3 linked regions of the Homo sapiens genome follow. The protein of the gene in region 1 interacts with the protein of each later gene in a biochemical or structural test. Each region holds a gene or a part of one and is shown in the gene's direction. Other genes may lie near its edges. The genes, in order: TAGLN, USP1 and RNF14.

Evidence for each region.
Region 2: the proteins of TAGLN (region 1) and USP1 form a complex in vitro, tested with the Homo sapiens proteins (one study listed by BioGRID).
Region 3: the proteins of TAGLN (region 1) and RNF14 form a complex in vitro, tested with the Homo sapiens proteins (one study listed by BioGRID).

What each region holds. Positions count from the first base shown.
Region 1 is NC_000011.10:117,194,224-117,203,572, forward strand, and holds the start of TAGLN (transgelin), read left to right. Parts: upstream 1-5,146; 5' UTR 5,147-5,209; exon of another isoform or gene 5,210-5,606; intron 5,607-5,627; exon of another isoform or gene 5,628-5,689; intron 5,690-7,537; exon of another isoform or gene 7,538-7,691; intron 7,692-8,778; 5' UTR 8,779-8,790; coding exon 8,791-8,970; intron 8,971-9,083; coding exon 9,084-9,261; intron 9,262-9,349. Other genes in the region: SIDT2 (SID1 transmembrane family member 2 precursor), read left to right, coding at 1,579-1,692, 1,781-1,843. UniProt on the Homo sapiens protein: Actin cross-linking/gelling protein. Involved in calcium interactions and contractile properties of the cell that may contribute to replicative senescence.
Region 2 is NC_000001.11:62,444,811-62,452,304, forward strand, and holds the end of USP1 (ubiquitin carboxyl-terminal hydrolase 1), read left to right. Parts: coding exon 1-619; intron 620-2,530; coding exon 2,531-2,701; intron 2,702-3,654; coding exon 3,655-3,856; intron 3,857-5,435; coding exon 5,436-6,171; 3' UTR 6,172-6,994; downstream 6,995-7,494. UniProt on the Homo sapiens protein: Negative regulator of DNA damage repair which specifically deubiquitinates monoubiquitinated FANCD2. Also involved in PCNA-mediated translesion synthesis (TLS) by deubiquitinating monoubiquitinated PCNA.
Region 3 is NC_000005.10:141,983,867-141,990,792, forward strand, and holds the end of RNF14 (E3 ubiquitin-protein ligase RNF14), read left to right. Parts: intron 1-936; coding exon 937-1,067; intron 1,068-3,866; coding exon 3,867-3,924; 3' UTR 3,925-6,426; downstream 6,427-6,926. UniProt on the Homo sapiens protein: E3 ubiquitin-protein ligase that plays a key role in the RNF14-RNF25 translation quality control pathway, a pathway that takes place when a ribosome has stalled during translation, and which promotes ubiquitination and degradation of translation factors on stalled ribosomes.

The sequences.
Region 1 (9,349 bases):
AAGATAGCCTGTGCAGGAGTTCCAGGCTGCAGTGAGCCAAGATTGCACCATTGCACTCTAGCCTGGACGATAGGCCATGTCTCTAAAAAAAAAATTTTAAACATCATTTGGGAACACCTACCATAGGCCAGCACTTTCATAGCGGCTTCCCCAGTTAATCCTCCTAGCATTCCAGCCTGGAGATAGCTCCAGTTTACTTACGAGACAGATGAGGCTCAGAGAGGCCAAGTGACTTCCCCAGGGCACATAGCCAGTGAGTGGCACAGCTGGCATTTGAAGCCAGCAAGGCTTGGCTCTCTTCTCTGCCTTGCAGGACACCTACCACATGTCAGGCTTTAATTCTGGGAATAGAACTAAGTCTGACATGGTCTCTGAGGGACTCATAAACTAGCCGAAGAGGGCTAGAAGGACTGTTGGTGCATGACTGTTAGTGCTGTTTACGATGTGATACATGAAATGAAGGGCACAGGCAAGACGGGGCAGGAGGACAGAGGACTAACGGGTCTCTCCGAGTTAGGAGTCCAGGAAAGCTTCCTGGAAAAAGTGCGCCTTGTTCTGGGCTATAAAAGTCTTGGGTGAGGAGGGCTGGGCACGGTGGCTCACGCCTGTAATCCCAGCACTTTGGGAGGCCGAAGCGGGTGGATCACGAGGTCAAGAGATTGAGACCATCCTGGCCAACATGGTGAAACCCCATCTCTAGTAAAAATACAAAAGTTAGCTGGGCGTGATGGTGGGCGCCTGTAGTCCCAGCTACTCGGGAGGCAGAGGCAGGAGAACGGCTTGGACCCGGGAGGTGGAGGTTGCAGTGAGCTGAGATCTCTCCACTGCACTCCAGCCTGTCAACAGAGCAAGACTCTGTCTCAAAAAAAAAAAAAAAAAAAAAAAAAAAAAGTCTTGGGTAATGGAGAAGAGCCCCATGGCCCAGACCTACTGTGACCTTAGTAATGATACAGGGGCAGATTTGGAGGTCAGTGAATGCACTCATTTGGGAGCCAGGCAGACTGTGAGCTCCCTGAGGGTGGGGCAGGTCTTGGTTATGTCTGTGGCCTCAGCATGTAGCACAGACAGACACAGCCTGGATGAGCTTATGGGATAGAGCTTATGAGTAGAGCAGGGAGGACCTTGAGTGCCACAGGTTATGGCTACTGTCCCGGAGCAGGTGTGTAACCTGACAGTAGTGCTTTGGAAAAAACAATGAGCCTGCAGAAAGATTAGAGCAAGGGCGGAGTCCAAGGCCGGGAAGTGGGTGAGAAGGCCTTCTGCCATCTCTGAGCTGAAGGCCTTCAAGGTTGTTGCAACCCTGTGCTCTTAGGTCAAGGGAAGAGAATCAGAAGGAAGGAGGAGGGTAAGAGTGAAAGAAAAGGGAAGAGAAGCCAGTGAACTCAGGGAGAAGTTTGTAACCAAAGGCCATTTGTTAGATCGGGAAGGGGTAGGGACAAGGACAAGGGACAGGTCAGAATTGCTGCTGTCCTGCCTGGGGCTGGAGAGAGGGGTGCCCAGGAGCAAGATGGCAGATGGGTCTGGCCCTTGCCCTGCCAGAGCAGGGTCATTCGGCAGTTTTTCTTGTTGCTCCCCAAGAAAACCCCTGCAGAGTCGAGGGAGCACAACCGGGACTGCATCCTCCTCGACTTCTTTGACGACCACGACATCTGGCACTTCCTCTCCTCCATCGCCATGTTCGGGTCCTTCCTGGTAAGCGGGCCTCCCGGCCGAGCCGGGTGGGTACGTGAAGGTAGCAGCTGCCTCCTTCTCTGTGGCTGATCTGGCGTCCACACCCCAGGTGTTGCTGACACTGGATGACGACCTGGATACTGTGCAGCGGGACAAGATCTATGTCTTCTAGCAGGAGCTGGGCCCTTCGCTTCACCTCAAGGGGCCCTGAGCTCCTTTGTGTCATAGACCGGTCACTCTGTCGTGCTGTGGGGATGAGTCCCAGCACCGCTGCCCAGCACTGGATGGCAGCAGGACAGCCAGGTCTAGCTTAGGCTTGGCCTGGGACAGCCATGGGGTGGCATGGAACCTTGCAGCTGCCCTCTGCCGAGGAGCAGGCCTGCTCCCCTGGAACCCCCAGATGTTGGCCAAATTGCTGCTTTCTTCTCAGTGTTGGGGCCTTCCATGGGCCCCTGTCCTTTGGCTCTCCATTTGTCCCTTTGCAAGAGGAAGGATGGAAGGGACACCCTCCCCATTTCATGCCTTGCATTTTGCCCGTCCTCCTCCCCACAATGCCCCAGCCTGGGACCTAAGGCCTCTTTTTCCTCCCATACTCCCACTCCAGGGCCTAGTCTGGGGCCTGAATCTCTGTCCTGTATCAGGGCCCCAGTTCTCTTTGGGCTGTCCCTGGCTGCCATCACTGCCCATTCCAGTCAGCCAGGATGGATGGGGGTATGAGATTTTGGGGGTTGGCCAGCTGGTGCCAGACTTTTGGTGCTAAGGCCTGCAAGGGGCCTGGGGCAGTGCGTATTCTCTTCCCTCTGACCTGTGCTCAGGGCTGGCTCTTTAGCAATGCGCTCAGCCCAATTTGAGAACCGCCTTCTGATTCAAGAGGCTGAATTCAGAGGTCACCTCTTCATCCCATCAGCTCCCAGACTGATGCCAGCACCAGGACTGGAGGGAGAAGCGCCTCACCCCTTCCCTTCCTTCTTTCCAGGCCCTTAGTCTTGCCAAACCCCAGCTGGTGGCCTTTCAGTGCCATTGACACTGCCCAAGAATGTCCAGGGGCAAAGGAGGGATGATACAGAGTTCAGCCCGTTCTGCCTCCACAGCTGTGGGCACCCCAGTGCCTACCTTAGAAAGGGGCTTCAGGAAGGGATGTGCTGTTTCCCTCTACGTGCCCAGTCCTAGCCTCGCTCTAGGACCCAGGGCTGGCTTCTAAGTTTCCGTCCAGTCTTCAGGCAAGTTCTGTGTTAGTCATGCACACACATACCTATGAAACCTTGGAGTTTACAAAGAATTGCCCCAGCTCTGGGCACCCTGGCCACCCTGGTCCTTGGATCCCCTTCGTCCCACCTGGTCCACCCCAGATGCTGAGGATGGGGGAGCTCAGGCGGGGCCTCTGCTTTGGGGATGGGAATGTGTTTTTCTCCCAAACTTGTTTTTATAGCTCTGCTTGAAGGGCTGGGAGATGAGGTGGGTCTGGATCTTTTCTCAGAGCGTCTCCATGCTATGGTTGCATTTCCGTTTTCTATGAATGAATTTGCATTCAATAAACAACCAGACTCAGTTCTTGGGGCCCTTGTTTGCACTCCCTCTGGGTGGAGCTGTTGAGGATGAGGGGAGAGGCGGAGGTCTTCCATTTCCCCATTCTTCAAGCCATGGCCCTACTGGGAACTGCAATTCCTTGATTCTCCCGTTTTTCCTGTCCCTCCAGCAACAGCATTAATTCAGTAAACATTTACCGGGGCACTGTGCTGGACAGAGGCCAGTTCCTGGAAAAGCCTTTCCCACGCCATCCCACTGCAGACATCCCTCCTTACCTCCCCAGGAACAGCAGTCTCTGCCCACCTGGCCCCGCCCACCAGACTGAGGCTCACTTCACCTCTGACCTGAGCGGCCCCCAGCTCACCAAGCCACAGGCCCAAGCAGTGCTCCCTGATGCGGCGTTTATAATCCGCTCAGCGTGCAGGCCGAGGCAGGAGGGTGATGAAAGCTGGGCAGGCTCCAAGAGGAGGGAGTTTTGATATGTCCCTGAAAGATTCATTTAGACTTCAGTCGGCTAAGGAGGACATGATTTGGGGGCCAAGGAATCTGTTGAATTCAGAACACAACCAGAGGTCTGCAGGGTCAGGGATGGAGGAGTGGGCTTTCCCCTCGCCAGGGCCCACTCCTCTTCCTGCTTTTCCTGCAGGCGCCACTGGGAGGTGCTATGGCTGTGCCTCCCCTGGGCTCTGGAGCATGTCCAGTTGCAGTGGGCAGAACTGCGGAGGCGGGCCCCTCCTCTGCCAGGCCTGGCAGCCCCCTCCTAGGGCCTTGTTTGGCTAGGGGTGGTGCCGGGTGTGGCAGTGTGTGTGTAGTGGAGAGTGTTAGGTCTTCCCTACCAGATGCCCTTGCAGGGGAGTGCCACAGCAGTCAGTCCAGGGATCCCACTGTTAGTCTCACCTTTTTTAACCTCTTATCTCTCCCCAAGATCCCTGAAGCCAGGTACGAGCAAGATGAGAGTGGGTTATCTCTGGAGTGACAGAGGCTGGTCTGTTTTCCAGGCTGGTAGGGACTGTTCCTAAAGGGAGGAAGGGATGATACCAGCCTCCTGAGCCTCCTTCTCCTGCGTTAGTGTCTCAGGCCCTGCCAGGCCTTATAGACCCTCTTATTGACACTGCCCACTGGATGGGGACCGGAGTTGGACTCAGCTTCTGCCGAACCCTCAAATCCCAGCCCCAACTAAAGCATATAACTCAAGACCTACCTGCACTGAAAGCTCTTCTCAACCTGAGCAGGGTGGTCCAATTGAAAGGGTGGGTCTGACCACCTCTCCTGCACCCATGCGGGTTGGCAGAGGTGTGCAGGATCTGCCACTTACCATTCACCATGTGGCCTTGAGGAAGACGCACTCGGGGCCTCAGTTTCCTCATCTATAAAATGGGGATGTAATTACACCCTCACACTGTAGCTGTGAGTATTCAATGAGAGCACTGCAAAGGGCCTGGTGTGGAGTAGGTCCTCAGGAAAGGTTGGATCCCATGTCCCATCAGAGCTAAAAGCCCCAGGAGGAGAGGGTGGCTGGTTTGTCCCCACAAACCCCTGGGATTCCCGGCTCCCCAGCCCCTTGCCCCTCTCTCCAGCCAGACTCTATTGAACTCCCCCTCTTCTCAAACTCGGGGCCAGAGAACAGTGAAGTAGGAGCAGCCGTAAGTCCGGGCAGGGTCCTGTCCATAAAAGGCTTTTCCCGGGCCGGCTCCCCGCCGGCAGCGTGCCCCGCCCCGGCCCGCTCCATCTCCAAAGCATGCAGAGAATGTCTCGGCAGCCCCGGTAGACTGCTCCAACTTGGTGTCTTTCCCCAAATATGGAGCCTGTGTGGAGTCACTGGGGGAGCCGGGGGTGGGGAGCGGAGCCGGCTTCCTCTAGCAGGGAGGGGGCCGAGGAGCGAGCCAGTGGGGGAGGCTGACATCACCACGGCGGCAGCCCTTTAAACCCCTCACCCAGCCAGCGCCCCATCCTGTCTGTCCGAACCCAGACACAAGTCTTCACTCCTTCCTGCGAGCCCTGAGGAAGCCTTGTGAGTGCATTGGCTGGGGCTTGGAGGGAAGTTGGGCTGGAGCTGGACAGGAGCAGTGGGTGCATTTCAGGCAGGCTCTCCTGAGGTCCCAGGCGCCAGCTCCAGCTCCCTGGCTAGGGAAACCCACCCTCTCAGTCAGCATGGGGGCCCAAGCTCCAGGCAGGGTGGGCTGGATCACTAGCGTCCTGGATCTCTCTCAGACTGGGCAGCCCCGGGCTCATTGAAATGCCCCGGATGACTTGGCTAGTGCAGAGGAATTGATGGAAACCACCGGGGTGAGAGGGAGGCTCCCCATCTCAGCCAGCCACATCCACAAGGTGTGTGTAAGGGTGCAGGCGCCGGCCGGTTAGGCCAAGGCTCTACTGTCTGTTGCCCCTCCAGGAGAACTTCCAAGGAGGTGAGGAGTGTGTGAACGCACCTGTGTTGGAGCACGGTGTCCCACTCTGGCGGGTCCCCAGGGCCTGAGCAGCAGCGATAGCCCTGTGACAATGTGAAGGGCCACAGAACTCTTGTATTCCAGTCAGGGGCAAAGAGTGGAGACGGAAGGCCTGTCCTTCTGACAAGCAGCCCCTTCCACTGTCTGACAGTGGGAGGTCACCCCCACTGTAGCAGAGGGGTGGGGGGCGGGTACTGCCAAGGAGGAGCTTTGGAGTGATAGGCGGGGCAGGCCTGGGACCCTTGGTCTTTCCCAAAGGGTGGTTCCCTTTCGAAGTTGCTATTCCAAAGGTAGCAGTGAGGATGGCACACATTTATGTAGCCAGGCCACTCCTGTTTGTCCGTGGAGTGGAGAGGAGCCACCCTCCTGCCCTCTCAGAGGTCCAGGTGTGCTCACTCCTATTTGGGAAGAGAGAAGGGGCACAGCAGCCCTGCAGGGGCCCCTGGCTCTGCTCGTGTTTCTGGGCTTCTGCTGGTAGGGGGTGCCACCTTCCCGTTTGACCCTGGACTTTCTTTCTCCACTGCCCACTTTCACCCACTGGGCAGCTCAGGGGAGGGGTCCTGGCAGGAGCCACAGGGCAGGAGGGTCCATGCCTGTCCATGCTGTCCTGGGAGTGTCTTGAGATGCCCCTGGGGGGGCCGCCCTGTAATCATCCTCCTCTCCCCCTCCCCACTGGCTCGAAGGCAGGACTCGGGAGGCTTCATCAGAGGACTCTAAAGGATTTCTGGGGATTCTCCACTTTTCGACCCTGACCCAGGAGGAGGAAGGGGAAGGATGGTGGTGCTGGGTGGGAGTGGGGATGGTGTGTGCTTCATCCCCCTCTGACCGAAATCCTAATCTTGTCTCTAGATCTGGGGGCTGCAGCGTTGTGTACCTGTCACCCTTAGCCTTGCTGCTTTGACCTGTATTGTCTGTTCTGACCCTCCTGAGACTGGAAGCTGGGGGTAGGGGACACACTCTCCTTCCATCCTGTTCCTCAGGAGCCCAGCAGGGGTGCAGAAGGGGAAGGCAGACATGAGGGCAGGTGGAGTGGGGGTAGAAGCAGGGCCAGAGACAGAAGGTGGATGCCTGTCTGGGATGGTGGTGCAAAGGCTGAGACAGAGGCTGGGGTGGATGGAAGCCAGGATGCAGGGCTACCAAAATCACCTGGTCCCAGCTGACTTGGGGGTTTGGACCACAGTTCTTTGTGCAGGAGTCCTTGGGTGGTTGGGGAGCGGGGGTGGGACACACAGGGTGAAGGGAGGGATTGGCTGTTTGTAGCTGAACAGCAGAACAGAGCACTCTGCCTTTGGGGTCTCTGGCATCACTGGCAGGGAGAGGGGTGGCTGGGCCAGGAGCCCACCTCATCCCCAGTGCTCAGAGAACTGGGTCCTCAGAAGTGGTCCTGCCCCCACTTTACACATAAGGAAACAGACGCAAGGAGGAGAGGGATGCCCAATGACGGGCACTTCGATGAGTCCGTGTGAACTCTGTTCCGTGTGAGCTGCTGCGCGCTCAGGGAATGATTGTGAGAAGCGGGTGGAGGCTGGAGTGGGCAGCAAAGAACTGACATTTTGAGGTCAGTTTTTCACTCCTTGGTCAAGGGCAGGCTCTCTCCCTGGTCATTACCAGGAGCCTGGCTCCGGGCAGCAAAGAACTGACATTTCGAGGAGCTCTGCTAAGGGCCAGGCAGTATGTGAGGGAGTTCACAGACACCGTCCCATTTTCACAGCCCTCTGAGGTTGGTAACATAACCCCCACTTCACAGATGAGGAACTCCAGCCCAGAAAGCCTGTCAGCCCTGAGAAAGGAAGGGCAGGGCATCGGGCTGGGCAGCTGGCCTGGGACCAGTGGGGTGTGATAGTGTTGGCTCTGCTTCCCGCGGGTGGGGTGCCAGTGGGGAGGGGTCTCACCAGAGAGGGAGCCGGGGGAGTGCGCTCCTGCGTCCATCCTCAGACCAGCGTGTCCCTCCCAACCTCTGACCCCTCTGAGGCCAGGGGATGGGTTCGGCTTCCTTTGGTACCTCTTTTGGAAGTCTCTTCAGACAAACACTGGAGAGAAGGCACAGCACCCTAGGGTGACATCAGTGGACAGGTCAGTTTCCTGTTCCTGTTCCCAGCCACCCCTGTCTGTCTGCCCAGGGACCTACCTGCCTGGCCCACTCCTGCTGCCACCCCTCTCCATGAGTGGGACTCCTGAGCAGTGCCAGGCCCAGGCCCTCAGGGTGGCAGTTGCTGGATGGGGCCAGGCTTCCCATTCCCTGGCAGGCAGACTCTTGGCTCTGGAAGATCCCTGGGGGACTCTGACTTCTTGGTTACTCAGGCTACTCCGTAAGGGTAGCCTTACGAGAGCGTAAGGGCATGAGGGGAAGTCGATGGGTAGACCAGGTGTCTCTGATTTCTCTGAGGAAATGCAGCTTCTTTGCCAAGAACTCTTGGGCTTTGGTGGCTTCGTCGCCCTTGCCTGGGGTGGGCGAGTTTTAGTCTCTTCAGCTGCAGACCAGAAGCTGAGCTGACCTGAAAAGAGCTGGAGTTCTGGAGTTCGGGCTTCCAGGCCAGGGCCTGCTTCTGGGTGAGAGTGGGAGGTAATGGTTGCTTGAGGCAGAGGCAGTAAACCCTCACACCCGCAGCTGGACAAAGGCACCAGCTGGCTGTATTCTGTGGGGGCAATGTGGCTTCTGGAAGGTCTCTCCAGTGGCTCTGTAGCTGGTCTTGGCAAAGAATGTTCTAGACCAAGGGTTGTCAAACTACAGCTCATGGGCCAAATCCAGCCTGCTGTCTGCTTTTGTAAGTAAAGTTTTATTGGAACAAAGCCATGTTCATTTGTTACATATTGTCTATGGCTGCTTTCACACTGCAACAGCAGAGACCATGTGTCCTGCAAAGCCTAAAATATGTTCTGTCTTATCCTTTACAAAAACAGTTTACTGACCCCTGCTCTAGACCTCCAAAGACCTGGTATCCTCTTTCCTGGTGTTCAAGTTCAGAGAGGTGTCTGGAGTAGGGGCTGAGCCTGGCCTGGATGGGCAGTGCTGTGACAAGTGTCTAGGATGGCCGGGTATCCTGCACAGAGCTAGAAGGCTGCCTGGCACGGGTGAAAGCAGAGCTGCTCCCTGACCCTCTGCCCCTCCCTCCTCCACCCTGGCCTGCTTTAGCTTTCCCCAGACATGGCCAACAAGGGTCCTTCCTATGGCATGAGCCGCGAAGTGCAGTCCAAAATCGAGAAGAAGTATGACGAGGAGCTGGAGGAGCGGCTGGTGGAGTGGATCATAGTGCAGTGTGGCCCTGATGTGGGCCGCCCAGACCGTGGGCGCTTGGGCTTCCAGGTCTGGCTGAAGAATGGCGTGGTGAGTGGCACCCTGGGCTAGGGCGCTGGGGGGCTGGGGTGTGCCACCCTGTGAGTCCTGGGCCAATCCCTGAGCTGACTGCTAAGCTGCGTCCTATGCCCTATGCCTGGTAGATTCTGAGCAAGCTGGTGAACAGCCTGTACCCTGATGGCTCCAAGCCGGTGAAGGTGCCCGAGAACCCACCCTCCATGGTCTTCAAGCAGATGGAGCAGGTGGCTCAGTTCCTGAAGGCGGCTGAGGACTATGGGGTCATCAAGACTGACATGTTCCAGACTGTTGACCTCTTTGAAGGTAGAGAGGAAGAGGCTGGGGGAGGAGGTGGGCAGGAGGACAGGGTGCTGGGACAGGGAGAGGGAATGACCAGAATATGCCACAACTA
Region 2 (7,494 bases), on another chromosome or scaffold:
ATTCAAGAAACATGCCAACTCCTAAAAAAAGAAGAAGTAAAAAATGTGGCAGAATTACCTACTAAGGTAGAAGAAATACCTCATCCGAAAGAGGAAATGAATGGTATTAACAGCATAGAGATGGACAGTATGAGGCATTCTGAAGACTTTAAAGAGAAACTCCCAAAAGGAAATGGGAAAAGAAAAAGTGACACTGAATTTGGTAACATGAAGAAAAAAGTTAAATTATCCAAGGAACACCAGTCATTGGAAGAGAACCAGAGACAAACTAGATCAAAAAGAAAAGCTACAAGTGATACATTAGAGAGTCCTCCTAAAATAATTCCCAAGTATATTTCTGAAAATGAGAGTCCAAGACCCTCACAAAAGAAATCAAGAGTTAAAATAAATTGGTTAAAGTCTGCAACTAAGCAACCCAGCATTCTTTCTAAATTTTGTAGTCTGGGAAAAATAACAACAAACCAAGGAGTCAAAGGACAATCTAAAGAAAATGAATGTGATCCTGAAGAGGACTTGGGGAAGTGTGAAAGTGATAACACAACTAATGGTTGTGGACTTGAATCTCCAGGAAATACTGTTACACCTGTAAATGTTAATGAAGTTAAACCCATAAACAAAGGTTAGTATAATTCTTAGACTTTGATAGGTAGAAGCATTAGCAGCTACAGAATTAGAATTTTCTCTTCCTAGATACATGTACAATATAATCTCTGGCTAAAATTGTTTCAAGAGAAGGAAATTTAACACTGAATGTGAACTATGGTGTTTTAAGTGCTATGCTTAGATTAGTGTGTGTGTATATATTGTATGCATATATATGTGTGTGTGTGTGTGTGTAATGTCATTAAAGTAATTTTAATTTATAGCTTATAAAGTAGGGAAGTTCGGCCAGGTATGTTAGCTCGCACCTGCAATCCCAGTACTTTGGGAGGCCTAGGCGGGCAGATCACCTGCGGTCAGGAGTTCAAGAGCAGCCTGGTCAACATGGTGAAACCCCGTCTCTACTAAAAATGCAAAAATTAGCCAGGCATGGTGGCGCACGCCTGTAGTCCCAGCTACTTGAGAGGCTGAGGCAGGAGAATCGCCTGAACCCGGGAGGTGGAGGTTGCAGTGAGCCAATATTATGCCACTGCACTCCAGCCTGGGGCGACAGAGCAAGACTCCGTCTCAAAAAAAAACAAATAATAATAAAGTAGGGAAGTTCAGTATATTTTAATGTACATTTAAGAGTACATTTCCCTTTATGCAGTGTTTGACATAAACTGATGAAGGACATTGCATTTAGTGAAATTTTAAAAGTAAAGACTAAGTACAGTCATGTGTTGCTTAACAACAGGGATATGTTCTGAGAAATGTGCTGTTTCATTGTGTGAATTTCACGGTGTACTTACACAACTAGATGCTAGAGCGTACTACACAACTAGCCTATATGGTATAGACCAGGGTATCTAATCTTTTGGCTTCCTTGGGCCACACTGGAAGAAGTGTCTTGGGCCACACCACACAGAATACACTAATGATAGCTGATGAGCCAAAAAAAAAAAAATCAAAAAAGTCTCATAATGTTTTAAGAAAGTTTATGAATTTGTTACGGGCTACAGGCAAGCTTTGCATGGCCTATTGCTCCTAGGCAACAAACCTGTATAGCATATAACTACTGAATACTGTAGGCAACTGTAGCACAATGGTATTTGTGTATCTAAGACGTATCTAAGCATAGATATGTAAACATAGGTACAGTAAAAATAATCATAGACTACTGTCATATGCGGTCCATTGTTAAATAATTGAAACGTTGGTAGGTGGTGCATAACTGTAAGTTACACGATACTTGAACTAGATTTTTACCTAGTTTTGTCCAGATCTACAGATATCAGGGAAAATGTGTAATATTGATATAGTGAATAGTTTTACCAAAAATGTCATCCTTATTCTGGGTTTATTCTATGGGGAGGTGTCTGTAGGAAGGGAGTTACAATACAACTGACTTTTTTTTATTTTTTATTTTTTTTATTTTTTTGGAGACAGAGTTTTGCTCTTGTTGCCCAGGCTAGAGTGCAATGGCATGATCTTGGCTCACTGCAACCTCCACCTCCCGGGTTCAAGCGATCCTCCTGCCTCAGCCTCCCGAGTAGCTGTGATTACAGGCATGCACCACCACACCCGGCTAATTTTGTATTTTTACTGGAGACAGGGTTTCTCCATGTTGGTCAGGCTGGTCTTGAACTCCGACCTCAGGTGATCTGCCCGCCTCAGCCTCCCAAAGTCTTGGGATTACAGGCTTAAGCCACTGTGCCCGGCCTACAACTGACTTCTTTTAAAGACAGTAATTTCATAGTCAGTTTTATCTTTACAGGGACCTTAAATTTCATTAATAGGGTACCTCTAATAAGCTAATAATGCTAATAAGCTGATCTATGAAAATGGAACTGTTATTCATGATATACTTTATTTAAATGGAAAATTGGTTATTTGGACTATAATGAGAAACTAATCTGTATAGACTTACATTTTCCTATTTTCATTTTAGGTGAAGAACAAATTGGTTTTGAGCTAGTGGAGAAATTATTTCAAGGTCAGCTGGTATTAAGGACGCGTTGCTTGGAATGTGAAAGTTTAACAGAAAGAAGAGAAGATTTTCAAGACATCAGTGTGCCAGTACAAGAAGATGAGCTTTCCAAAGTAGAGGAGAGTTCTGAAAGTAAGCAAAATTGGAGTCTTGTGTGGACCATGATGGAATATTTATAATTCTTTAACAACACAAAGTTTAATAGTAGCTGGTGTAATTAGGGAGGGGAAAAAAGCTAGCTTTTAGTGTCTAATGTAACCTTTCTGCTTATCTGGCTTCACTTATAAATGGTTAGCATTTGGGAAATTGTGACATCTTGATTTTGATGTAGAGTGTGTTAGAATGGAAAACTGAAATGCTTTAATAAGTGTACTTTTGGGAACCTGAGTCTTTCAGAGCTACTGAGGGTTTTTTTTAATTTTTTTGAGATGGAGTCTTGCTCGGTTGCCCAGGCTGGAGTGCAGTGGCGTGATCTCGGCTCACTGCAAGCTCCGCCTTCTGGGTTCATGCCATTCTCCTGCCTCAGCCTCCTGAGTAGCTGGGACTGCAGGTGCCCACCACCACGCCCGGCTAATTTTTTGTATTTTTAGTAGAGACGGGGTTTCACCATGTTAGCCAGGATGGTCTCAATCTCCTGACCTCGTGATCCGCCCGCCTTGGCCTCCCAAAGTGCTGGGATTACAGGCGTGAGCCACCGCGCCTGGCCTACTGAGGTTGTTTTTAACACAATAATTGAGCCACTGTTGTGTCTAGAGCATACCACAAAATATGGAAATACCATAGGAAATAATCATGAGACAGGTTTACCTATCACATATTGAAAGTTGGCAATTAAATGTAAACAGACTAGGCTTATTTTGTTTTTGCTGTCTATCATATTTTTTGGCCGATCAAATATATTTAAAAGGTATGTATACTGTTGAGGATGCACTTATGAAAGTAGTTTCTGAAAGTAAAAATCTCTTTAGTTATTTAGGAATGGGTCGGTCAATTGAAATTAAATGCTAATTTTGAACCTGAAACTTTGTGGTTTATTTTTTGAATGCCTGAGAGAAGTATTTGAGTGAAAGGATTCTCTTTTTTAGTTTCTCCAGAGCCAAAAACAGAAATGAAGACCCTGAGATGGGCAATTTCACAATTTGCTTCAGTAGAAAGGATTGTAGGAGAAGATAAATATTTCTGTGAAAACTGCCATCATTATACTGAAGCTGAACGAAGTCTTTTGTTTGACAAAATGCCTGAAGTTATAACTATTCATTTGAAGTGCTTTGCTGCTAGTGGTTTGGAGTAAGTATTGTAAATAAGAACTATATGAAGAAAATGAGCTGCTGTAGAAGATAAGTCTTGTTCAAAATGCTGTAATAGTAGGAATATAAAGTACTGAAATGAAGTAGATTGTAAAGATTGCTTCAGTAAAGTTTTGTTCTTATTAACAGTTTCCCTGTAAAAATGAAACAACTTAAATCCTTTTGATATGAATACATATTCTATTAAGTATGATTTCTTCTCCTTTTTTTTTTGAAACAGGGTCTCATTCCAGTTGTCCAGGCTGGAGTGTAGTGGCACAGCCTCAGCTCACTGCAGTCTTGACCTCCCAGGCTCAGGTGGTTCTCCCACCTCAGCCTTCTGAGTAGCTGGGACTACAGGTGCATGCCACCATGCCCAGCTAATTTTTTGTATTTTTAGTAGAGACAGGATTTCACCATGTTGCCCAGTCTGATCTTGAACTTCTGGACTCAAGCAATCCACCTGCCTTAGCCTCACAAAGTGCTGGGATTACAGGCGTGAGCCACCATGCCCGGCCAGTTTCTTTATTCATCTTTTCATATTCATTCCCTCTTAGATGTTAGTAGCAGAATTCAGTAGAACTGACTAAAGCAGGGAACAAATTTTGTATACATCAAGATTTTTTTGAAGGGGCGGGAAAGGCTAAATTCTTCCTAGTTTTAAGGTAAGCCAGGAAATCAAACTAGTCTTTCAACAGTTTGAAAAAAAATGCTGATTGTTTTGGATAGTCTGTTTTTTTCTGACATGTGTAATGTCATTGTATGTGTGACTCCTTTGTACATTAGTTGCTTGTTTGAAATTACCACGAGGGCTTCACAGTAGCTCTCTCACACTTGATTATGTCAAAAGATAACATATAGCCCCTTATTCAGTGGACCTTCCCTTTGCTAATAGTATAAAATACTATTTTATTTACTTTCCCAAATTTTGGTAGAGAAAAACTTCACACTAAAAATGACTAAAATGGGCTGGGCGTGGGTGGCTCACACCTGTAATCCTAGCACTTTGGGAGGCTGAGATGGATGGCTTGCACCCAGGAGTTCAAGACCAGCCTGGGCAACATGACAAAACCCTATCTCTACAAAAAATACACAAACTAGTTTGGCGTGGTGGCGGGCACTTGTGGTCCCAACTACTCAGGAGGCTGAGGAGGAGGAGCCTGAGGTGGGAGGATCACTTGAGTCCAGAAGGAGCCATGATTGCACCACTGCAGTCAGCCTGGGTGACAGACCCTGCCTTAAAAAAAAAAAAACCCAAAACGTAACATTTTTGGTTCCGGTTCAGTCTATTTAAAATACCATTTATTTTCTTAACTGCACAAAATTAGGAAAATAAAGGAAAAAATACAATTATTTCTTCCACAGAAATGCCTGAATATTAGCAGTTATTTATTTTTTTGTTTCTGCATATATTATAAATATTATTCAAAGTTGGGGTCTTGTTTTGATTCTGCTTTTCTGATATATGAACACTGGATATTAAGGGTTCATTCAGATTTTTACTTGGTTTCAGATTGGGGTATAACATTTTGAATTTAAAATAGAACTGCAGGAAACCTTTTCTTTTTTTCCTCCCAAAGGTTTGATTGTTATGGTGGTGGACTTTCCAAGATCAACACTCCTTTATTGACACCTCTTAAATTGTCACTAGAAGAATGGAGCACAAAGCCAACTAACGACAGCTATGGATTATTTGCGGTTGTGATGCATAGTGGCATTACAATTAGTAGTGGGCATTACACTGCTTCTGTTAAAGTCACTGACCTTAACAGTTTAGAACTAGATAAAGGAAATTTTGTGGTTGACCAAATGTGTGAAATAGGTAAGCCAGAACCATTGAATGAGGAGGAAGCAAGGGGTGTGGTTGAGAATTATAATGATGAAGAAGTGTCAATTAGAGTTGGTGGAAATACACAGCCAAGTAAAGTTTTGAACAAAAAAAATGTAGAAGCTATTGGACTTCTTGGAGGACAAAAGAGCAAAGCAGATTATGAGCTATACAACAAAGCCTCTAATCCTGATAAGGTTGCTAGTACAGCGTTTGCTGAAAATAGAAATTCTGAGACTAGTGATACTACTGGGACCCATGAATCTGATAGAAACAAGGAATCCAGTGACCAAACAGGCATTAATATTAGTGGATTTGAGAACAAAATTTCATACGTAGTGCAAAGCTTAAAGGAGTATGAGGGGAAGTGGTTGCTTTTTGATGATTCTGAAGTCAAAGTTACTGAAGAGAAGGACTTTCTGAATTCTCTTTCCCCTTCTACATCTCCTACTTCTACTCCTTACTTGCTATTTTATAAGAAATTATAGAGTGAGTGTATTTTCCTTGTGTATATATTAAACACACCCATACAAACATTGGTAAAGTTGATTACATCAAAGAATCTTTAGCTTATCTTTTGAAGCTACTGGATATTATTGGTCTCTCTAGGTTTTTATATAAATAGTGAAATTTGAATTACTGAAAACCATGTTAATTTTTAGAACTCATTTTCCTCAGTAGAGACTAGTGATGCATTAGCTTCTGGGAACAAACTTGTATCGGTTCTTAATTAAATTATCCAAAACGGAGGCATTTAAACACTTGGATTTACACCAGTCTTTTGTGTTTGCTTTTTAAAATAAAGTGCTCGTATTTGTATTCTCCATATTTTGGAGTAATTATCTACATGATGTTTATAGTTCCTGTGGTTTTTCACCCAAGAAGCAGAATCTCATTCAGTACATTTAGTTTTATAAGAGTCATGAAGCTAAATCCTTGGGCTATGTCAGAGGCACAAAGTCTAGAATGTGTGTATTCACAATGGTGTATGTACATTTTGTGCCTTGATTCACTTAGAAGTGTCTCAGAAAACCTGGACAGTTCGCTTCTACACAAGAATTTTATATGTATTTATGAAGATGATTCTGTACCCTAGTATATCTTTTTGGGCATGGACTAATTTGTATCTGTTTAACTCATATTCTGCACGATCTGTATATAGTACATCAAACTTAGAGGTGTGACCTTAAATTTAACTTTTTTTAAAAACTGGGAGGTCAATAAAATTTAAACTGCTTAACTATGTATATGAATATTTGAATTTTTTACTTGTATATTTTTATAAATACAGCTGAGTTTTCTTAAAGCGAATAAGTGTGTGTATATATATATGTATATATATGAGAGAATAAGCATGCATAATTACCTTTATTACTGAATACTTTCTGACAGTGCAGGAGTTTTTCAAAGAGGAGAAATTGTGCTTAGTCCAGCCAAGCTGTCATACTTAAAAGAGGTTTATAATGAAATCTGTTGCATCTAATTGTCCTTTAAAGTAGACATGATTTAATGGAATCCAAAACTGGAAAAGTTAAGATGATGCTTTGGGCACACATAAAAACTTGGTTAAAATTTCATTTTAAACTAGTATACTGAAGTGGTAAGTGATGAATGATTTCATGACTTGTTAATGGACATTCTTGGTACTAAGTTTTTCCTAGAAATGATTCTAAATATGTAAATGCTATTGGGGTAACACTTTAATACCCCATTTCAACAAGGAGTACCTTCTCAATTAAAAAAAAATCGCAGTAGGCTGGGCGCGGTGGCTCACGCCTGTAATCCCAGCACATTGGGAGGCTGAGGCTGGT
Region 3 (6,926 bases), on another chromosome or scaffold:
TCAAATCTGATCTCTCAGAACTATTTATCCTGGAATGCTGCACACCTGTTTAAGATACACTCAGGAATTAATTTGAGTCAAAATAATTAGACAGATATATTGCTTCTTGACAAAAATCTTAATATGTTTTAAAATCAAAATACATCTTAGCATTTGATTCTATTGTTCTAATCTGTTATGTCTGAACTGAACATAGTGGGCTCCAGTTAAGGAAACTAGGACTATATGTAATCACTTTTTTTTTTTTTTTTTTGATACTGAGTCTCTCTTGCCCAGGCTGGAGTGCGGTAGTGCAATCTCAGCTAACTGCAATCCCCGCCTCCCAGGTTCAAGGAATTTTCATGCCTCAGCCTCCCGAGTAGCTGGGATTACAGGCGCCAGCCACCACACCTGGCTAATTTTTGTATTTTTAGTAGAGACAGGGTTTCACCATGTTGGCCAGGCTGGTCTCGAACTCCTGACCTCAAATGACTCGCCCACCTTGGCTTCCCAAAGTGCTGGGATTACAGGCATGAGCCACCACACCTGGCCATATAATCACTTTTGACATACCTTAGCCCTATGACAGAGTGGAGGACTTGGTACCAAATATTTACTTAGATTTCTGTAAAAATTAAAAACCCACACGTTACATCCAAACATTTTAATATTAATCTAACTACATTTTCCAGTTATACTTGTGTGATTTTTATCTACTGCTTGTCAGAAGAGATTGTGCCAAGTAACTAATTGTAGTAACACTAGCTATTTTCTGTATTTTACTTCTAATGCAAAATAGAAAGAATTACATAGTCATCAGTGTGTTACATTGATATCTCAACCCTGCATAAGAAAAGGGAGAGGACCAAGACAATGTTGTACTGAATCATTTTGGCATGTGCTGTCTCTTCTGCTTTTACAGCCTTGATATTTTTCTCTTTCTATCCTTCCCACCAGAAATTAGACGGATGTAACAAGATGACATGTACTGGCTGTATGCAATATTTCTGTTGGATTTGCATGGGTTCTCTCTCTAGAGCAAACCCTTACAAACATTTCAATGACCCTGGTTCACCATGTTTTAACCGGTATGTATACACAGAATTCCTCAGGCTCACCAGCAATTTTTGGTACTTGATTTGCAGACCACAAATCCAGTGTTTTATTTAAGTACTTGGACTTATTTAGAGAATTCTCTTACATGTTTTCCCCTATAAAGGAATTTTCATATTATTTTCTCAAAAATGAGTTTTATAATGAGACTTATACACCATCTGGAAGTTTTTATAGTGAAAGTTTTCAAACACAGAAAATTTGAAAGGATAGGACTATGAATAGTAGGATACTTTCCACCCAAATTAACAGTTGATAGTACTTTGCCATATTTGTTCCCTTAACATTTTTACTGAACTACATGAAGTTGGAGTTATGATAATGCTTCAACTCTAAATATTTCCACGTTTCTCCTAAGATAAGGAAATGCTTCTACATAATGACAGTACTTTTAAAAAACTTAATGATAGTGGCATACTATTATCTAGTAAACAAACATATTTGAAACTTCCTAATTATTTCTGAAAATATCTTTTAAAGCTATTTGATTGAACCAGAATCTGAACAAGTTCAGTCATTGTATTTGGTTCTATCTCTTTAGTCTCTTAATACAGAAAAGCTTTGGCCCACCTTTTTTTTGTGTGTGTTTTGTGAACATTCACTTTTTTTTTTGTTGAGTCAGAGTCTCGCTCTGTCGCCCAGGCTGGAGTGCAGTGGTGCCGTCTCGGCTCACTGCAAGCTCCGCCTCCCGGGTTCATGCCATTCTGCCTCAGCCTCCTGAGTAGCTGGGACTACAGGCGCCTGCCACCACGCCCGGCTAATTTTTTTGTATTTTTAGTAGAGACGGGGTTTCACCGTGTTAGCCAGGATGGTCTCGATCTCCTGACCTCGTGAGCTGCCCGCCTCGGCCTCCCAAAGTGCTGGGATTACAGGCGTGAGCCACCACACCCAGCAAAACATTCACTTTTTGAAGAGTCCAGGTCAGTTATCTTATATAACGTCTTACCTTCTAGACTTTTATTTGTCCATGGTGTCCTTTAGCTTGTTTCTCTTATTTGCTATAAACTGGAAGTTAGGTCTAGACTGAAGCTTGATTCGATTTAGAATAACATTTTTTATGCTGATACTTCATGAGGAGTGATGTGTATTCCGTATTGGATCACATCAAGAGGTCCATGATGTCCCTCATTAGTGTGGTGCTCATTTCTACAGTTTGCTTTATTGTAAAGGCAAGTTTTCCATTTTGTTATTAGGAAGTAATCTGTGGGGTGATTCCTTGGCACAATGTGAATATCCTGTTCTCCAAGAGCTCTCCACTTTCAGCATCAGTTGATGATCTTTGTTAAGAGGTGTCTGTTAAGTAAACACATTGGTATTGTGAAACTGTAAGAGAAATTGAAGAAACAAGCCCTGCCATGAACTATTGGAAATCTAGTGTTGGAAATTGCATAAGTTGTAGATAACATAAGGAAAGGAAGACAAATTGACAGCTACAAAACATTCTACAAATGGAGGGTGCAAGGACTGTGAAGATAGAATGGAGTGATGAGCATGTAGTAGTAATAATAGTGTCTTGAAAGGGTTCAGTTTAAATTGCCTGACTTCCCCAGTCTTGCCTTATTCCATGTATTGTATACGCTGAGTATCAGTTTTGTGATACCTATCCCTCATTATTGTTTATCCTTGGCCCTGGAGAATTTGTCTGGATTCTAAAAGGACTGTTTTGTTCGTTTGTTTTAATTTGGAAAGGAGAGCTTTATTTCTCATAAAGAGTTGAAGCCGGCAAGGTGGCTGTTATGACAGGTTGGGAAGCATAGCCTTCAGCCAGAAGCTGGAAACAGACACTCTAAGGATGGGAAGAGGAAGACAGGGATTTATGCCCTACAAGATAGCCAGATATACATATTCAGTAAGGTATAGGAGGAGTCATGAATATTTATGAAAGGAGAAAAACGCTGCATGTGCAGTTGAGCTTCATTACCCTTCAGGGGACCCATGTTCAAAAAATGGTGGCATTAGCATGATCTCTGGGGGAGTTCTCTGATATCAAAAGGTGAAGCAGAGAACACGAAAACCTCAGTCCACATCCTCCATAGACTGGCTAGAACCACTCCATGGTCAGTGGTCTATTGGCAGGAAGAAATGCTGGTCGGTTTTTGTGCCAAAACTGCAGAAGGGAGGGGCAGCATCAGGCAGTTGGTTGATATCAGCGGTGGAGCAAGTCTTCCCAAAGGGTTGGTTTGAACCCTTAGGGAAAGAAAGCCTAATGGTGGTCAGTGAGGGAGGGGGGTATGACCAGGTGTGTCTGGCCTCCCATCCCATCATGGCCGGGAACTGTTTTCAGGGTTTCTCTGGGGTTCCCTTGGCCAGGAGAGGGTCTGTTCAGTTGGTTGTGGGGCTTAGGGTATCATTTTTATTTCTCATTTTCCCCTTTTTGGCTGAGATTTGCCAGAGGCAGCATTGATGGTCAAACTTATTTTGTCCCATATCATTGCTGGAGTGGTGTGGCTAACCTGCCTCGCCTCCATCTAGGCCCTCAGTGGGACCCCTATGGCCAAGGGACTTAAGGCCAAAAGACAGCCAATTAAATCTTCTAGGCCAGTGGGAATGGAGCTGGACAAGTACTCATCCACCTTAAATGGGCCATTCTTAACTAACTTTAGGGTAGATTGTTCAGAGGGACCCATATTTCAGCCCTCCTCAGTGCAATGATTAAAGGAGAAGAAAAGATGTACAAAGATGTTATAAGAGTACAAAAAATATTTTTCAGCGGAGAGGCAATTTATATTGTTTCGTTCAAGTGTATAAAAATGTACCTTTTTTAATGCTTCCAGGCTGTTTTATGCTGTGGATGTTGACGACGATATTTGGGAAGATGAGGTAGAAGACTAGTTAACTACTGCTCAAGATATGGAAGTGGATTGTTTTTCCCTAATCTTCCGTCAAGTACACAAAGTAACTTTGCGGGATATTTAGGGTACTATTCATTCACTCTTCCTGCGTAGAAGATATGGAAGAACGAGGTTTATATTTTCATGTGGTACTACTGAAGAAGGTGCATTGATACATTTTTAAATGTAAGTTGAGAAAAATTTATAAGCCAAAGGTTCAGAAAATTAAACTACAGAATATTAAATATTATAATGTGCCCAAAGCTCTGAATAGTTAAAAATTAAATATTTATTTTCTTCCCCAAGCTTTAGGTAAGGAGAAGAGGGGTCAAGAGTTAAACTTAGAGACCCTTTGTCTCTGAGAAGCATCCTTCTAAGACATTCTGTTGGAGTTCCCTCAGTACTATTCCTTACAACTGGAGTGGGTAGAAGCCTTATGAAAATTATACTGAGAACCTGATCTCGTTTACTCCATGTTAATCACATTCCTACCAACCTAAATTTCTGCCAAGTCAGTTCTCTTTGGAGGAAGCCCATTACTCCGTAACTGACTGGATGGTCCAGTGTCATTTTGATCTGCTTTTCAGAATGGAAATTTATAATATAAATATATGTTTTAATACCACAAACACTGTGGGGCACTTGATATTTATTAGTGGTGTATATGGTCCACTGGTTTCAGGCCAAATCTAGAATTTAGTGATACTGGCTCAGAAGAATTTAAGTTCTATTCAGCCTTCCTGGGTGTTAGAACCTAGATTCAAAATGGCTTGTCTTTGCTACTTTTGTTCCACATTCTCTCTCTTTACCTTTGCCCTACCTTCTGTTTGTAAGGATGATTTTAATATTAATTCCAGGAACACATGTTTTTATTTCCTCTGCTGGAATAGGAGAAAGCTTAATATATTCCCAAGCTGAATGTTCTTGAATTATATCTGCATTTACCACTGTATATGCATATAGTGACAGTATAACCTGTCTATACTACAGTAGTTCCAGTCCTAACTTTCTGAATTATTTTTAAAGATCTTCTCTAACAAGCTATGGGAATTTGGCTTCATACTCTTTCTTTGCAACAGCAGTGTTCTGGGTGATAATTTTGAATTGATACCTGTTCCTTTTTCTGGGTTTTGTTGGCTTTTTGAAAAATTGTCTTTCCTTATCATTGGTGGGAGGCTTGGTAGCAAAGTAACATTTTTTGGAAAAGAGGACAGAAAAATTGAACTACAGCTTGAGAACGTATTCTTTTTTTCCTACTTTGTTATTGCAAATTGAGGAATCACTTTTAACTGTTTTAGGTGTGTGTGTCCAGAGTGAGCAAGGATTATGTTTTTGGATTGTCAAAGAGGATGCTTAGTCTTAAAATAAAAATAAATTTAAAAATCATCTTATAATTAGAACAGAGTTGCTGCTATTTGTTCTGTCACCAAGGCAACTAATCACATTTTAAAACTGTTCGGCATATAACATATTCTTAAAGTAAGAAAAAAAAGGTCACAGAATAGCATCTCTTTTACCTGGGCTTGTGACTGAGCTTAGGTTTTAGGGCCCATATTTTGTTTAAACCAGATAGTTTCATGGTCTTCCATTCAGGACATTTTGTGTAAAAATTGAGGTTAATTTGCTGGGCACAGTGGCTCACGCCTGTAATCCCAGCACTTTGGGAGGCCTAGGCGGGCGGATCACGAGGTCAGGAGTTCGAGACCATCATGGCTAACACGGTGAAACCCCGTCTCTACTAAAAATACAAAAAATTAGCTGGGCATGGTGGCAGGCGCCTGTAGTCCCAGCTACTCAGGAGGCTGAGGCAGGAGAATGGCATGAACCTGGGAGGTGGAGCTTGCAGTGAGCCGAGATAGCGCCACTGCACTCCAGCCTGAGCGACAGAGCGAGACTCCTTCTCAAAAAAAAAAAAAAAAAAAATTGAGGTTAAAGAATAAATTAAAGATAAGAAATGGAAATTAAAATGATTTGTTCTACAGTATATACCTGAGAAGAGTGATTTCTGTGATCAAAGAGTTCAATTCAGATTTATTCAGAAAGAGCTACTCAGAAGCTCTATAGTTCGTGAGCTACTTGATATTTTCTAGAGATCATTTTATGTTAAGCTGTTATACATTGTTGATGATGTCATAGAAGTAGGAAAGAAGCCTTTATAATACAGTTTTATGAAAGAAATGGGAGCCTTTTTTCCCATTTATGATATTAAAAACAACACAGGTATTTGGTGTTTAGTCTCAAAAATTTGTTTGGTCACCTTAGTGATTCTTAGGTACAAAGTCTTCATCACTCAATTTTAACAAAGAAAATAGGGCTTATAAAGTTATACTTTTGAAGCATGAGTTATGAGCTAATTTTAAGATGTATAGTTTTGGTAGAGTACTTTTGTCTCAGTAAAATGAAAGATTTGGGTAACTCCCCAAATGCCCTGTAAAACAAATGGGTTTGTGGAAGGTTGTGGTGTCAGCAAAATATATGATAGAATAAAGAGTTTTGTACCTACCTTAATTTCATGAAAGCCTTTTTTTATGAGTGGGTTGAGATTTGCCATAAATTAGTATGAATTTCATGGGCCTTTTTTCTTTTTGAGACAGGGTCTCACTGTCACCCAGGCTGGAGTGCAGTGGTGCGATCATAGCTCACGGCAGCCTTGAGATCTGGTCTCAAGCAATCCTCCCACCTCAGCCTCCTGAGTAGCTGCGACTGCAGGCACATAGCACCATGCCCAGCTAATTTTTTTTTTTTCTTTTTAGTAGAAATAAGGTCTCGCTATATTGCCCAGGTTGTGAACTCCTGAGCTCAAGTAATGCTCCTGCCTCAGCCTGCCAAAGTGTTGGGATTTACAGGCATGAGCCACAGTGCCTGGCCTCCTGGGTGTTTTTGGGGGAGTTTGAATAGTCAGTGTCTCTTCATTTTTATATAAAAGGTTTGGGTCTAGAGCTGATAAATGAAAATAAGCTATCAAATAACTTATTTATTTATTTATTTGAGATGGAATCTCCC